2 linked regions of the Homo sapiens genome follow. The protein of the gene in region 2 interacts with the protein of the main gene of each other region in a biochemical or structural test. Each region holds a gene or a part of one and is shown on either strand. Other genes may lie near its edges.

Region 1 (7,871 bases), on a different chromosome or scaffold from region 2:
CGTGGCCTTCCAGGGGGTCAGGGCCCTGATTCTTATCCTCACACCGGCCCTGAGACCCTGTGGGACCTCAGCCAGGTCTCCGCCCCTCTCTGAGCCTTAGTTTCCATGCCACAGAACACGGAGCGGGGCCTCAGGCTGTTCCCTGCTTCCTGGAAGATTGTCTGCAATCAAAATGATCATCGCAGCAATCGCGTCCATAGTAATGAAAATACCCCAGCATCTTAGAGGGGCCGAGGCGGGAGGATCGCTTGAGCCCAGGAATTCGAGACCAGCCTGGGCAACATAGCAAGACCCCCATCTCTACTAAAAGTACAAAAATTAGCTGGGCATGGTGGCGCACCTGGAATCCCAGCTACTCGGGAGGCTGAGACATGAGAATCGCCTGAACCCAGGAGGCGGAGGTTGCAGTGAGCTGAGATCATGCCACCGCCCTCCAGCCTGGGCAACAGTGTGAGACACTGTCTCAAAAAAAAAAAAAAAAAAAAAAAAAAAAAAAGGAAAGAAAATAGAAAATATCCCAGTGCCTTAGGAGGCCGAGGTGGGAGGATCACTTGAGCCCAGGAGTTTGAGACCGGCCAAGGCAACACAGTGAGTGAGACTCCATCTCTGCAAAAATAAAAATTAGCCAGACATGGTGGTTTGCACCTGTAGTCCCAGCTACTCAGGAAGCTGACGTGGGAGAATCGCTTGAGTCTGGGAGTTCAGGGCCCAAGTGACCTAAGATCGTGCCACTGCACTCCAGTGAGACGCCTGTCTTTTTTATTTATTTATTTATTTATTTTGAGACGGAGTCTCGCTCTTGTTGCCCAGGCTGGAGTGCAATGGCGCGACCTTGGCTCACTGCAACCTCTGCCTCCCGGGTTCAAGTGATTCTCCTGCCTTAGCCTCCCGAGTAGCTGGGATTACAGGCGCCTGTCACCATACCTGGCTAATTTTTTGTGTTTTTAGTAGAGATGGGGTTTCGCCATGTTGGCCAGGCTGATCTCAAACTCCTGACCTCAGATGATCCACCCACCTCGGCCTCCCAAAGTGCTGGGATTACAGGCGTGAGCCACCACACCAGGCTGAGACCCCCATCTCTTAAAAAAAAAAGTAATAAAAATCACAGTAGCCCCAGCACTTTGGGAGGCCGAGGCAGGCGGATCACGAGGTCAGGACATTGAGACCATCCTGGCTAACACAGTGAACCCCCGTCTCTACTAAAAAAAAAAATACAAAAAATTAGTTGGGCATGGTGGCGGGTGCCTGTAGTCCCAGCTATTCAGGAGGCTGAGGCAGGAGAATGGCGTGAACCCGGGAGGTAGAGTTTGCAGTGAGCTGAGATCGCATCACTGCACTCTAGCCTGGGTGACAGAGCGAGACTCTGTCTCAAAAAAAAAAAAAAAAAAAAAAAATCCAATAGCAATATAAGTTGTAATGATAACAATCATCGCATCATTAATAACAATGTAGTCCTTTGAGAGCTGGGGGGAGGAAAACAGCTTTCTGTGCTAGGAAGGGATCACCCCTGTCCGAAATGCCCAGCCCAGCCTGGTCAAGGCAGGGAGATGGAAAGGCAGTTTTGCTTCTCTTTCTCTTCTTGTTCCTTGTATTTATTCCACCTTGAGGCTGAGAAACTAGGTCCCAGATGTTTTTAATTTGTTTTATTTTATTTTTTATTTTTTTAGAGACAGGGTCTTACTCTATCCCCCAGGCTGGAGTGCAGTGGCACAATCACAGCTCACTGCAGCCTCGACCTCTGAGGCTCAAGTGATCCTCCCACCTCAGCCTCCTAAGTAGCTAGGACTACAGGTGTGCGCCACAGCAACTATGCCCAACTAATTATTTTTGTAATTTTTAGTAGAGACGGGGTTTCGACATGTTGGTCAGGCTGCTCTCAAACACTTGGGCTCAAGTGATCTCTCCACCTCGGCCTCCCAAGTAGCTGGGACTACAGACGCGCACCACAAAAATTATGCCCAGCTAATTTTTGTAATTTTCGTAAAGATAGGGTTTTGCCTGCCGGCCACAGTGGCTCACACCTGTAATCCCAGCACTTTGGGAGGCAGAGGCAGGTGGACCACCTGAGGTCAGGAGTTCAAGACCAGCCTGGCCAACATGGTGAAACCCCATCTCTACTAAAAATACAAAAATTAGCTGGGCATGATAGTGTGTGGCTGTAATAGTGTGTGCCTGTAATCCCAGCTACTCGGGAGGCTGAGGCAGGAGAATCTCTTGAACCTGGGAGGCGGAGGTTGCAGTGAGCCGAGATTGTGCCACTGCACTCCAGCCTGGGTGACAAGAGTGAAACTCTGTCTCAAAAAAAAAAAAAAAAAAAAGGAGATGGGGTTTCGCCATGTTGCCCAGGCTGGGATTGAACTGGGCTCAAGTGATCCACCCACCTCAGCCTCCCAAAGTTCTGGGATTACAGGCGTTAGCCATAGTCCCCAGCTGAGATCCCAAATGCTATGCAGACTCAGTTTCCCTTGCTGGAAAATGGGAAGAATGGGAGGGGCCTCCCCACACCCAGACAGGGAGCTGGGGGCCTCCCACTGCCCCACATTTCTCTTCAAGGGGCTGCTGTTATTTTCGTGGGGAAGTCAGATGAGTGCAGGTTCCAGTCCACCTCTGTCCCCCATGGCCGGGTTCCCCCTCAAGGCCTCAGTTTCCTCATCTGTAGCATGGGTGTTGTGACTGCCCTCAGACACCAATTTGTCATGATTTGGGAGTAGGTTGAAGTCCCAGCTCTGGCCCAGTCTCAGCGCCTTCCCAGCCCTCGGATTTTCCATCTCCAGGGTGGGTCTGCAGGGAACGGGGTGGCCCCTCTCCCCAGTTCTGAACCTTTGTGGCTGAGCGTCTGCTTCTCTGGTCTGTTTCTGTATCAGCACAGTGGGTTCATGGAAAGGGGAAAGGAGGGAGAGGACTCCACCCGGGATTTCTCCTCCCTCTGATTAATCCTGGTGCACTTGAATCTCTTATCTTTTGATGCAGAAATCCCCCCACCCTTCCAGCAGCCCTCAACCTCCAGGCGGGCCTAGTGTCTGCCTGTGGATCTCAGCCAGGCCTGTCTGTACATATGCTCTGTAGGAACAAGCTTTCGTAGTCATTTTTTGTTTTTTTGTTTTTTGTTTTCCCAAGATGGAGTCTCGCCCTGTCACCCAGGCTGGAGTACAGTGGAGTGACCTTGGCTCACTGCAACCTCCACCTCCCAGGTTCAAGCAATTCTCCTGCCTCAGCCTCCCAAGTAGCTGGGATTACAGTCATGCGCCACCACGCCTGGCTAATTTTTGTATTTTTAGTAGAGACAGAGTTTCACCATGTTAGCCAGGCTGGTCTTGAACTCCTGACTTCTTGATCTGCCCGCCTCGGTCTCCCAAAGTGCTAGGATTACAGGCATGAACCACCGCGCCCAGCCGGGTTTTTTTTTTTTGAGACGGAGTCTCACTCTGTCGCCCAGGCTGGAATGTAGTGGCGAGCTCTCGGCTCACTGCAACCTCTGCCTCCTGGGTTCTCCTGCCTCAGCCTCCTGAGTAGCCGGGACTACAGGCGTGTGCCACCATGCCCAGCTAATTTTTGTATTTTTAGTAAAGATGGGGTTTCACTATGTTGGCCAGGCTGGTGTCAAGCTCTTGACCTCAAGCGATCCACCTGCCTCAGCCTCCCAAAGTGCTGGGATTACAGGCGTGAGCCACTGCGCCCAGCCTCATTTTTCATTTTTTTTTATTTCTTTCTTTTTTTTTTTTTTTTTTTTTTTGAGTCAGGAGTCAGGGGTCTCACTACGTTGTCACCCGGGCTGGAGATCAATGGCGCAACCTTGGCTCACTGCAGCCTTGACCTCCTGGGCTCAATTGATCTTCCCACCTCAGCCTCCCAAGTAGTTGGGACTGCAGGTATGCATCACCTAGCTAAGTTTTGATTTTGTAGAAACGGGGCCTCGCTATGTCATCCAGGCTGGTCTTGAACTCCTGGGCTCAAGCAGTCCACCCACTGTGGCCTCCCAAAGTGCTGGGATTACAGGTGTGAGCCACCATGCTTGGCCGCCGACCCTAGTTTTTTTTTGTTTTGTTTTGTTTTTTGAGATGGAGTCTTGCTCTGTCGCCCAGGCTGGAGTGCAGTGGCGCAATCTCGGCTCACTGCAAGCTCCGCCTCCCGGGTTCATGCCAATCTCCTGCCTCAGCCTCCTGAGTAGCTGGGACTACAGGCGCCCGACACCACGCCCGGCTAATTTTTTTGTTTTTTTTTCAGTAGAGACGGGGTTTCACTGTGTTAGCCAGGATGGTCTCAATCTCCTGACCTCGTGATCTGCCCGCCTTGGCCTCCCAAAGTGCTGGGATTACAAGCGTGAGCCACCGTGCCCAGCCTTGTTCTTTTTTTTTTTTTTTTTTTTTTTTTGAGACAGTGTTTCACTCTTGGCACCCAGGCTCCCAGGCTGGAGTGCAGTGGCACAATCTGAGCTCACTGCAACCTCTGCCTCCCAGGTTCAAGCGATTCTCCTGTCTCAGCCTCCTGAGTAGCTGGGATTACAGGTGTGCTCCAATATGCCTGGCTACATTTTTTTGTATTTTTAGTAGGGACGGGGTTTTGCCATGTTGGCCGGGCTGGTCTCAAGCTCCTAACCTCAGGTGATCCACCTGCTTCGGTCTCCCAAAGTGCTGGGATTACAGGTGTGAGCCACTGCGCCCAGGCTTTTTTTTTTTTTTTTTTTTTTTGTGACAGTCTTGCTCTGTCGCCCAGGCTGGAGTGCAGTGGCACCATCACAGCTCACTGCAGCATTAAACTCCTGGGCTCAAATGATCCTCCCACCCCAGCCTCCCAACTAGCTGGGACTACAGTTGCAAACCACCATACCTGGCTAATTTTTGTTTTTTTGATTTTGTTTGTTCATTTGTTTTGTAGCGATGGGGTTTTACCATATGGCTCAGACTGGTCTCAAACTTCTGGGCTCAAGCAGTCCTCCCTCCTCGGCCTCCCGAAGCGCTGGGATTACAAGTGTGAGCCATTACACCCAGCCCAACCCTAGCTGCAATAGGCAGAGAATAGGTCCCTGACATCTTTGTTCTCCCAACCTCAGTTTTACCCGTCTGTACAATGGGTTGTCCATGAGCCTCCACCTGGCCCCCTTAGCTTGCTCCATCTGCATGCTGGGGTTCAACATAGGTCCTCCACGGCTGGGCATGGTGGCTCACACCTGTCATCCCAGCACTTGGGGAGGCCGAGAGCCGAGGCGGGCGGATCAGAGGTCAGGAGATCGAGACCATCCTGGCCAACATGGTGAAACCCCATCTTTCCTAAAAATACAAAAATTAGCTGGGCGTGGTGGTGGGCATCTGTAATCCTAGCTACTCGGGAGGCTGAGGCAGGAGAATCGCTTGAACCCGGGAGGTGGAGGTTGCAGTGGGCCGAGATTGCGCCACTGCACTCCAGCCTTAGCGTTAAGAGCAAGACTCCGTCTCAAAAAAAAAAAAAAAAAAAATGATCCTCCACAAACTTCCGCCTTGATTTGTGCCTCTCACATAGTCCAAGTCTGTTTGCTCATCTGGGCGATGGGTTCTTGCAGGTCCCTGATAAACTTCTCCTGGGTCCCCCGGGCCTTTTGCGTGCCTCCGGCGGCGTGCACGGGTCCGCAGCGACCCCCTGCCCACCTCTGCCCAGCCCCTCCCACTCTGCGGGTCTGTTCAGGGCCCCTCCGACCTCAGCCTTCGGGGCCGGGCAGTGGGTCCGCCCTCTGCGTCCCTGGCGCTCCTGACCTCTCGCCTCTCCGGCCTGCAGGATGAGTTCCACCCGTTCATCGAGGCCCTGCTGCCTCACGTCCGCGCCTTCGCCTACACCTGGTTCAACCTGCAGGCGCGGAAGCGCAAGTACTTCAAGAAGCACGAGAAGCGGATGTCGAAGGACGAGGAGCGTGCGGTCAAGGACGAGCTGCTGGGCGAGAAGCCCGAGGTCAAGCAGAAGTGGGCGTCGCGGCTGCTGGCCAAGCTGCGCAAGGACATCCGGCCCGAGTGCCGCGAGGACTTCGTGCTGAGCATCACCGGCAAGAAGGCGCCGGGCTGCGTGCTCTCCAACCCCGACCAGAAGGGCAAGATGCGGCGCATCGACTGTCTCCGGCAGGCGGACAAGGTGTGGCGGCTGGACCTGGTCATGGTCATCCTGTTCAAGGGCATCCCGCTGGAGAGCACCGACGGCGAGCGCCTGGTCAAGGCTGCGCAGTGCGGTCACCCGGTCCTGTGCGTGCAGCCGCACCACATTGGCGTGGCCGTCAAGGAGCTGGACCTCTACCTGGCCTACTTCGTGCGTGAGCGAGGTGAGGTGTGGTGGCCTGAGCGGAGCGGCCAGCGGGGAGGGTGTCTGATGGTGGTGACACGGGGCCAGGAGGGCCTGAGGGAGGAGGCCAGTGCGTGTGGGTATGATGTGGTGGTCTGAGAGGGGAAGTGGGCCTTGGAGAGTGCCCAATGGGGGCGACACGGGGCACGGAGCATCTGAGGGAGGAGGCTGGTGGGTATAGATGTGATGTGGTGGTCTGAGAGGGGAGGCGAGTCTAGGAGAATATGTAAAGTAGGTGATATGGCACAAGGAGAGTCTGAGAGAGGAGGCCAGTGCATATAGATGTGATGTGGTGGTCCAGGCAGGGCAGCAGGCCTGGGAGAGCATCTGATGGGGGTGACATGGTGCAAGGAGGGTCTGAGGGAGGAGGCTGGTGCGTGTAGATGTGATGTGGTGGTCCAAGCGGGGAGGCGGGCCTGGGAGAGCGTCTGACGCCGGGTGACACGGGGCAAGGAGGGTCTGAGGGAAGAAGCCAGCATGTGTAGATGTGATGTGGTGGTCTGAGGGGGGAGGCAGGCCTAGGAGAGCGTCTAATGCAAGTGATATGGTGCAAGGAGCGTCTGAGGGAGGAGGCCAGTGCATGCAGGGCCCAGGGTGGCTGCTGATGGGATGTGGAGGTCAGATGGAGGAGGCAGGCCTAGCAGAGGTCTCAAGTGAGAGATGGTACAAGGAGGTTTTTTTGACAGAGGAGGCAGGTGGGCTGTGGCGCTCCAATGGTAGAGGCAGGATCTCACCCTCACGTCTGAGGGAGGAGGCAGGAAGGCCCTTGAGGTCTCAGGGGGATGAGAATGTCCTAGATGGTCTTGGGCACAACGGACGGCCTTGCTGGGAGCAGGGGTGAGGAGAGGAGAGGGACAGGCCATCCCAGCCCTCCGAGGAGAGCCAAGAGAGTCCTGGCACCGCTTTCTGTGAATGCTTGTTGGTTGATTGACTCTCAGACCATGCCAGCAGAGGCCTGATGAGCCTGGCCCTGCCAGAGGGGTGTTTGCCGGTGGTCAAATGCCTGATGTTGAGACCAGCTAGCTCTGTGGGGTTGAGGAAATCCAAGGCGGCTTCCCAGAGGAGGAGGTGCAGCTGAGCTCAGCTCTGCAGGATGGCCAGGCCACAGTGAACAAGGAGATGCCCCAGGGGTCCTGGCAGGAGCGTGGAGATGAGAGGCCTGATGCCTGTGCCTCTGGTCCCGGTGCTAAGAGCAGGGTTGGTCCTGCAGCTTCTTGGCTGCGTGGCCCTCTTGGACTTCAGTTTCTCTTGCCTGCCAAATGGTGGAGATGATCAGTCTGTAGCTGGATGGGGCTATGGGAGGTTCCAGAAGATCATGCGTGTAGCCACGTGCGAGGTGTCAGCTGCATCCCAAGACCTGAGTGGGTGCACAGCACACCCCTGCCATGCCCATCCAGGCCGTGTCTGGAGCACGCGTGAACCCCCACACACCCAGGGGCTGCCAGAGCATGTGGGATGGGTGTACGCCAGACGCAGACCCACACAGGTCACCAGCCCAGCCCCAGCCCAGGCAGCACTCTATAGAAACAGGCAGTTGCACAGCCTGAGAGGGAGGGGCATTTGCCCGAACA
Region 2 (8,753 bases):
TGCCTGACAGAATAAACTTACCTTTCCTCACTAAAACTGTCTATCCTTCACATTCCAGGAATCCCTTCTAAAAAACATATTCCATGCCCTTTTTCAAGAGAATCCAGCCAATCATTTCAGCTCAGACATCTCTCCCATGTAAATGCTGGAAGCTATCCTCCAAGCCTTTCCTTTTTCTATAGCACTTGCTGCTAAGGATAATTATATGGTTTCTCATCAACAGAATGTAAATTCTCCCAGTGCCCATGAATACATACTGGCCCAGAGGAAAACAGGTGAGAAATATGTCAAAAGAACTTGTAATACAAGCCTTCATATACATGGCAGGGGAAGGCCTGGTGCCTCCTTTTCTTACAAAATAGGAAAAATAGCACCTAAACCTGCAGGTTTGTTGAGGCTCACACTGTTTAGAATGGCATTGAACAAACATCTGGCACAGGAAATGCCCATTATAAGTCACCTGTTTCCATTTATGTCTCAATCTCAAATGTGGTGAGACGTGCCACAGCGATTAGTATGGCAGATTACAGGGGCTGATCCCCATCTTTTACTCACAACCCTGTAACTGTTTCTTCTTGATAAAGTAATGGTGATAGATAGGGACACTACACACAAACCATTCATGGATTCTCCCCTAAGTCTGTGCAATCGTCCGTATATGTATTAAATCTAAAAGCAAAAAAAAAAAAAACCAATCAAATAAAATGCTAAAGTGTATTAAAAGTTGTCATAATGCAAATTTTATTTTGATTAGTTTTTGTGACTCCTTTATCTTAAACCCAGCGATGCTTGCCACTTCCCAAGGTGTAAAAATGTGAAGATTAAGGTAAACTGAATGTCGAGGAGTGTAAAGAGATGGCAAAACACAGATAAAAACATCCAAAAAGCCTCTGGGGGCAGGTCAAGCTTATGATTCAACAGTTAGAAAACCAAAATTACTTGGACATCCCCTTCTACTTAAAGTGATATACTGGAATTGAAAATATTAACTGTTAGTTTTAGAAACTAAGATTACTTGAAGTAGGCTCATTCCAGAATGCTTTTCTTTTTTCCTTCCTGAAACAATTACATCAAACTTAGATATCCTAATGTTTATTTTTAGATATACTCCTTAAAGGCATTTATGTTCACCCTTTTCGAGGATGAGAAATTTACATTAACTAATAAACTTAACATTGATCTTAAGAACTGGTTTTTGATAAGACTAGTGTGACAGAGGTACTAGTAGAGCAAAAAAGCAGGATTCCAGATTTTATTTTTTAGAAGATTGAAAAAACACACCCAGGACAACATTTCTTTGATCAATAAACTTTCAGGAAATGGAGGAAGCTGTTTTGGGACACATTCAAAGCTAGTTAACTTGAACTTGGAAATAGGGTTTTGACAATCCAACTATGGGAAACAAATCTCTGAACAAATTTTAAATGAAACCTCACCCCCCCAAACTGTTCAAGTGGCAGACAAAATAAATTACCATAAATTATATGCCAACACACCTTTTAAAAAACAACAACAGCAACAACAAAAACCCAGGAGTCTGAGGATTTCCTTAGCTCCTCCAGGAAGTGTGTAACACTGCTTCTGGCCTGCAGGCTGGGGCGGATCAGGGACCTGTCACACGTCAGGATAGTTGCAGTAATATACCGCGGAGCTGGCGTCGGACACCACCGAGGAAATGGCCCCGTGGCTGTCGGGGAGATTCACACCGGAGTCATGCCCCTGGTAGGGGAGGCCCATCTCAGGCTTGCACACGAAGTGCAGATACTGTTCAAATTCCGTGCGGTCCACCTCCCCGAGGAGCTCGGCGGGCTGACTGGGGTCCGTGCCGTCCCGGCAGGGCAGTGCCTCCGGAGGGGGCGACGGCTGTCCGGGGCCCGGGGGGTGGTGCTGGTGCTGGTGCTGGTGCTGGTGTTGCGGCTGCATCTGGAAGCCGCGCCCGCCGCCCGCCCCGGGCGAGCCCATCGCGCCGTAGTACACGTGAAGGGCGCTGGGTGGCGCCAGGAGGCCCGGAATCGAGGGACCCGCGGGCTCTGGGCCGAGTCGGGGGTGCATGGGACCGGCGGGAGGCTCCGGGGGGCCAGCGTAGTCCGAGACCTGCGCGTAGCTGTAGGTGCCGGCCGCCGGGCAGTCCCCGGGCATCGGGGCGGCGAAGAAAGCCGGGTCGGGGTCCACGCCGTCCAGCGGGGACGTGTCGGGCGTGGGCAACGGGTAGCCGTCGAGCGGAGGCGCGCCCAGACTCTGGCAGTCGCGGTAGTGGCCGCCCATGTGCGGAGGCAGCAGCGGCGGGCCGGCGGGGAAGCCCTGCTCGGGGAACTGGAGGCCCAGGCCGTCCATGGCCACGCGGCCGCCCTCGGGGCCCAGCGCGGCCGCCTGCGGCTCAGCCAGGCCGTGCAGGAAGCCGCCCTCCACCCGCTTCAGCCGCTTCACCTGCTTGCGCCGCCGCGGCCGGTACTTGTAGTTGGGGTGGTCCTGCATGTGCTGCACGCGCAGCCGCTCTGCCTCCTCCACGAAGGGCCGCTTCTCCGCCAGCGTCAGCGCCTTCCACGACTTGCCTGCACAGTGGAAGGAAGGGGGAGAGGGGCGCAGGGCTTATCGGCTGCGCTCCCGCTCCAGGCCCCACCTGGCCCCACCTGGACGCACCTCCCCCCTCAGACTTTGAATTGCGCAACCGGGGTGAAGTTAAAGAGGGAGATCTGGGACTCCTGAGTCCGAGCCCTTGGGGAACACCCGTCCTCTAAAGGCACCCCTTTCTTTTGGTCTCCTGGAAGCGGCTTTCCGCTCACCCATCACCCGGTCGTTCGAAAAACAGAAAAGGACACCTAACTAGGGAAGGGGTCGAGGGATGGACACAACCGGCCCAGTTCAGGGCCAAGGGTGCTCTCGCGCCGCCCGGAGGTGCCGGGAAGTCGCCTTCCCAGAGCCGTTGGACCCGCGCCCCCGGCCACCTGGGGAATCCGGGAGCCGGAGAGCAAGGCGGAAAGCTGCTTTGGAGGGTCGGAGGGCGGGAAGCGGGAAGGGAACCCAGAGCCTTAAGAAAGGACGTGGCCGCTACACACCCCTGGTTTTGGGCGTCAGGCTCGCAAAGAACAGTTTGGGGTTTAAGAAATCGGCCTAGCGATTCGCGCCAGCGCGCCCGGCCGCCTGGGTCTGCGACTCGGACTCACCCAGCATCTTGCTCAACTCGGCGTTGTGCAGGTCTGGATTCTGCTGCGCCAGCCGCTTGCGCTCGTCCTTAGCCCACACCATGAAAGCGTTCATCGGCCGCCGGATACGGGACTCGCCCTTGGCTCGGCCCGCGGCCCCGGCCGGTGCTCCGCTGTTCGCCGGCGCCTCGCCCTTCACCTTCATGTCCCCGATGGGGCTCAGCGACTCGGCCCAGGGGCAGGGGCCCAGCCCGGCCATCACCGCGGGCAGCGCGCTCTGGGTCTGGCTCTGGTCGTCACTGGCGTATCCCGCATCCGGGCTGCTCATGGCGCTCCAGGCCTGCCCCGCTCCCCTCAACCCTCCGCCGGACGCGCCGCCTCCCCCGACCCGGGGGAGGGGGTGGGGAGTGAGGCACTGAGATGCCCCGAGGGCTGCGCGGGTCTCCCGGCCCGAAGCCGCCGCCCGTGTTCTGGCCTGTCGCGGTCTGGTCTACAGCGTACCCAGGGCCCCCAGCCGGCCTAGTGACACTGCGGGCGCCCCTGGGCCGCGGGGCCTTTTCTGCACAGATGTGGCCAATGGAGCGGCGAGGGCGGGCCGGTCCCGCGTCGTTAGGCCCACGCCCAGGCCGTGGTCCGAGTCCCACGTCCCAGTCCAACCCCACGCCCGCCCCTTGCCCCTCCCCCGGCCCCGCGCCCAAGGCTACACCTGCCCCCGGGAAAACTAGCCGGAGCTGGGCTCTGGCGCCGCGTCCTCTCCCACCGGGGTTAGGGAGACTCGAAAAGCCGTCTGGGAGGGCTGATTGTACCTTGGAATCGACGTACTTGCCCAAGGTCGTTTAGATGAACATACCGAGCGTCCATTCTATTCTCTTTAAAGCACATCTTTTTGCAGAAGCCGAGGGTGTTTCAGTGGTGGGTGACCTAGTTTACTTCCAAGGAACTGCATGGGCATCTTCAAATGTGTTTTCTCAAATGCGAAAGACACCGTTGATAATAAATTTAAAAATACAATTTTTCCCCCAGGACTCAACTTGCCTGTGTTATATTCAAAATGCTGTGTCCAAGATAAATCCTAATTTTCTAAAGCAAGATTAAATATGGAACGACGTTCTGTATCCAATATTCCTTCACTCTAAAGAATAAAGCATTTACTCATGACAAGCCAACCAGTTTTTATGTGTATCTTATTATACACATCATGTGAAAGTACGAAAATGTATACATGATGTATATAAGATACGCATAACAAAACTGTTTCTCGTATGTGTTCAGTAACAGGTGAGCCTTAATACTGATTTCTAAAATGTAAAGACAGCAGCAATATTTGTCTAAATGTCCGAGTTTGTTTGGGGGAAGAGAACAATCTGTTTTAGCTGCAAAGTAACTGTGGTTCTTACAGTCAGTTTAAAGCGGTTATTCTGGCAGATAATTAGATTTCTATAAGTTTCTTTAGACTGGAATGAAATCTGAATGACTATTAAACTTGTGTTTCGATCTGGAAAAAAAAAAAGTTTTCAGTGGGACTTTTAAAACAAGCCGTTATACAACACTGAGAAATGACACAGCCTGCCACTGCTATTCCTAGCGCCCTCCAGCATTAGCAAAGAAGCATATCCTCATATTAACCCTGAGGTAGACTCTATCTTACAGGAAAGGAAACGGAGGCAGAGAAGTTAAGGAACTTGCTGGAGACTACAGCGTTGAGAAGGTGGAATTCACACCCAGCAGTCCGCCTTCAGACTTGCAGCTCTTAATAATCACTAAGCCAGGCTGTTGTGTTTGTGTATTTGTGTTGGTTTTTGAGGGCAACTAACAGCCATTCCTGCATAATTAGAGATAACTTTGCAAAGAAATCAATATACGAATCTCCAGAACAGATTTTCTTTATTATGAAGGCGTGATAAAAAAGTAGAGCTTACACCTGGAATCTGAGAAGTAAAATGCTGCTGCTTTGAGTGTGATACTACAACAACAAGACCGTCTGTCCAGTCTTGCTTATTAGTGGCATCCATAAAAATACAAAACTTTTGCAAACTCCTGGCCTTCAGTTTCTCTGGCATTGCTTTTTCTCAAAAGAACTCTTACACAATTGTTTTAAGCCAACTTATCTTTAATTCTGCAAGTATCTGTGAAGCCTTGGCTAGGGGACAAGTTAAGAAAGTGTTTCTAGTTCCTGGGTCTCTAAGATTCAAACAAGAAAAAAAATTAAATCTGCATAAAGAAATCATAGAGAGGTGTTACTTCTAGTTGGTAGTTTTGAAAGCGGTTGATTTTAGACAAATTTAAATGATGATGTACTTTTAAAGCTTTATTTTTTCTGAAAAAAAAATGGGCTTCAGTATAAAGCAAAAGCACATTGCAAATGATTAAATAAGCAACAAAACTATAGGAGGAGAGAGAGCAATCTACAAATTAACCCCGTAGTACCTTGTTTTTTGCTGTTTTTTTTTTTTTTTTTTTTGAGATCTTTTCTAACTTTTCTGGATAATAATAAATATTTTTCAAAGCTCTCAAAGCAGAATTTTCTCTTAACACTAAATCTTTTATGAGCTAAGGAGTTTTCCTAGAATAAACATTGAAAATTAAAAAACAATATCTGGTCCAGAATTCATTTTTATCTGTCTAGTCTGTTTGACTAATTCCTTAAAAAACACTACAGGAAATACAATCCAGGTGTGAGTCCAAAAAATGTACATATACAGATTTAGCCCTGTACACTTTCTTCATCCTCATGCTCTTCCTCACCCAGCTCATTATTGGGAGAGGTGCGCTTGGGAGCCAAGAAGGTGGAGAAAATGATGGGGAAGAAAACGTGGGGTTTCCATATTTTATTGATTTATTTACTTATTCATTTATTGAGACAGAGTTTCCCTCTTGTTGCCCAGGCTGGAGTGCAATGGCGCGATCTCGGCTCGCTGCAACCTCCGCCTCCCCGATTCAAGCGATTCTCCTGTCTCAGCCTCCCGAGTAGCTGGGATTACAGACGCATGCCACCACGCCTAGCTAATTTTTGTATTTTTAGTAGAGACGGGGTTTCATCATATTGGTCAGGCTGGTCTCAAACTCCTGACCTCAGGTGATCCGCCCGCCTTGGTCTCCCAAAGTGCTGGGATTACCGTCGTGAGCCACCGCGCCCGGCCGGGTTTCCCTATTTTTATTTGCCCTTGTTCTTGGGGACTGATCTTGGTCTGGTAAGAGAAATCAGGTGAAAGTACACAATCATAGGTTGGAGTAGGAGCTTCAGATTTTGACGCCCCTCCCCCTACTTCTTATAACACCCTCCCTGAGATCATAAATTCACAGTTTACAAATTTACAGGGGAGGAATTGTGGTGGCTTTCCAAGACTAGTCCCTTTTACATACTGTGACCTAGTTAGATCTCATTTCTTCTGATCATTCGCTTGTCTTATATTTCGGGGGGCAGTGTGGAGGGCGGCGACGTCGCTGACCCGCGCGCGGTGTGTGGAGCCTTCTATTTCAGTCTCTTCACTTTAATACGTGGTGCCCCGGGACGTTATCAGAGCCAGCCACAGATGCCACATGTAAAGCAGCAAACATCCGGAGTGGCTTCCTGCAAGCCTTGCTTTTCTCAACACAAGAGATTTACGCAGGGGGTTGGGGGAAACAACTTTCACAAGTAAGAGCCGAGTACACCGCTCGCATAGCCGTTCGGGTGCGTTAGCACTGCACGGTCCAGGGTCGCAGGGCTCCTGGCTACTAATTGCGCTCACGTCCCCGGGTCCTTGGGCCGGACCCGAGGCTCTAAAGGCTGGGCAAGGAAGCGACTAGCGCACCAAGAAGCTGTGCCCGTTGCCAGTTGGGGCCTTTGGTCAGCGGGCGCAGAAATTAACTCGGGTAGGTGGCGAACCGTGGGGCTGACCTGGAGGAATCAGAGCCACGCTTATCCGTGGGCCCCTGAGTGACCAGGCAAAGGCTGGGTGATTTCCGGCAGGCTTTTGTGTTTTCGATGCTGGGAAAGCAGGGGCTGGAGGAAGGACACTCAAGTCGATCGGGAAGGACCCGTGGGCACCTAGGCAGATCCGGGTTGGCGCTGGAGAGCAAGTCTGTGGGGGCGGGGGAGGGGAGTGCGCGCCGCAAACCCTGGGAAAACTCCAGGCTGCCCGTGGATGACTAGACAATGGTATCCCTGAACAAAGAACAACAATAAGGCCTTTGCATTTATAAATCGTGCGCGGGCGGCTGCCTCCCGGAGGCCAGCACGAGGTGGCGCGCGGCGGTGGAGCGCGGCCGAGGGTCCCGCACCTCCCAGGTAGGGCAGCGCAGCCGGACGCCGCCGATTCGCACCTCGCGTCCCGGCGCCGTCTAGGCGGCGGTGCCGCGCCCCTTGATACCTTTAACGTCTCCTCCTTGTCCCCGGGCCAGTACCCCGTGGGTCCAGGATGGAGGTCGAAGGTCGCGGGCGGGAGGGGAGTGTAAGGGGGGAAGGAGTGGCCCGGAAAATCGCGGCCACCGGCTGTGCCGCCGCGCGCCCCCTGCCTTGGAGGCCCGCACCAGGTCGGAGCCCTGCAGATGCTGCAGTGCGGGTCCGATCCAGCCCCTGCGGTGCTCCACTGCTGCGCCGGCCTCTCCCCGTGAGGACTGAAAAAAAGGGCGACAGCGAGAGGGGATTTGGGGACGCGCGTTACCCCCGATGACCGGAGCATGCATTTTACTTGGACGCCTTCTCCCACTCCCTCCATGCGCATCCCTCCCTGGTTCCGCGGTGTCCCCTCGAGGCTGCCCCCCAACCCCTCCCTGGCAGCGGGCGACTCTTAGACCGTGTCCCCGTTCCCGCTTGGCCCCGCCTGGGATTTGCACAGGCGAAGCAGGAAATGCGCTGTTCCCGGTCCACTTCCCTCTTCAGAAACTCATCCGTGGAGTGTTTCTTAGATCTCCCCACCTCCAACTGTGGCCCCGGGTTGAGGTGTGTGGGCTACTTCCCTTTATTGCCTGGGCTGTGGAACCTCATACTCCAGGGAGAGGTGGCGTTGGGAATGAGGGAGAGGGTCCCGTTCCTCACCCAGGACTCGTCACATACACAGTACTGTCTTGCTCACCCCTTTCAGATCTGCCCCTCAGCCTTAAAAGGGATTTCAATAGCGGCAGAGCTTCTATGCACTCGGTGCTGCAGGTGAACTCCTACTCCCACTTTCCCCATCCACACCCTAGGAGAAGGCAGGGCTTTCCTTGGAGACCTGTGTCCTCACCTGACCAGACAGCCTTATCAGCAGCGTGCCCACTGTGCGCAGAGCACTTCCACTCCCACCCGAAGGAGAATAGACGCGGTCCCTGCCTCGGAGGAATGTACCGTGCCGTGTCATTAGTCTTCCTCCCTGATTCATTAACTTCCAGCTGGGTGTTCTAGGTATGGTCTTCTGTAATAATTTGTTCCTGGCATGTAAAGGTGATGCTGACATCAGTAGGTCAAGCGCTTTGAGATTTTTTTTTTCTAGTAGAGATAATAGGTTTCCTTTCCACCCTGAAAACTCTGGCTTGCCAAGTTTCCCTGGTAAGCAGGGCTGGATTGTGCCAGATGGTTAGGGCAAGGTGTGCATTTTGTTATCATGGAAGTGATCAAAGTTAAATAGGGCATAGGACAGGCCACTTCTG

The links. Proteins that work in one complex are often made in the same cells at the same time.
Region 1: the proteins of SOX17 (region 2) and NFIC form a complex in vitro, tested with the Homo sapiens proteins (one study listed by BioGRID).

What each region holds. Positions count from the first base shown.
Region 1 is NC_000019.10:3,375,964-3,383,834, forward strand, and holds part of NFIC (nuclear factor 1 C-type), read left to right. Parts: intron 1-5,748; coding exon 5,749-6,280; intron 6,281-7,871.
Region 2 is NC_000008.11:54,452,857-54,461,609, reverse strand, and holds SOX17 (transcription factor SOX-17), read right to left. Parts: upstream 3,676-8,753; 5' UTR 3,472-3,675; coding exon 3,165-3,471; intron 2,553-3,164; coding exon 1,615-2,552; 3' UTR 718-1,614; downstream 1-717. UniProt on the Homo sapiens protein: Acts as a transcription regulator that binds target promoter DNA and bends the DNA. Binds to the sequences 5'-AACAAT-'3 or 5'-AACAAAG-3'. Modulates transcriptional regulation via WNT3A. Inhibits Wnt signaling. Promotes degradation of activated CTNNB1.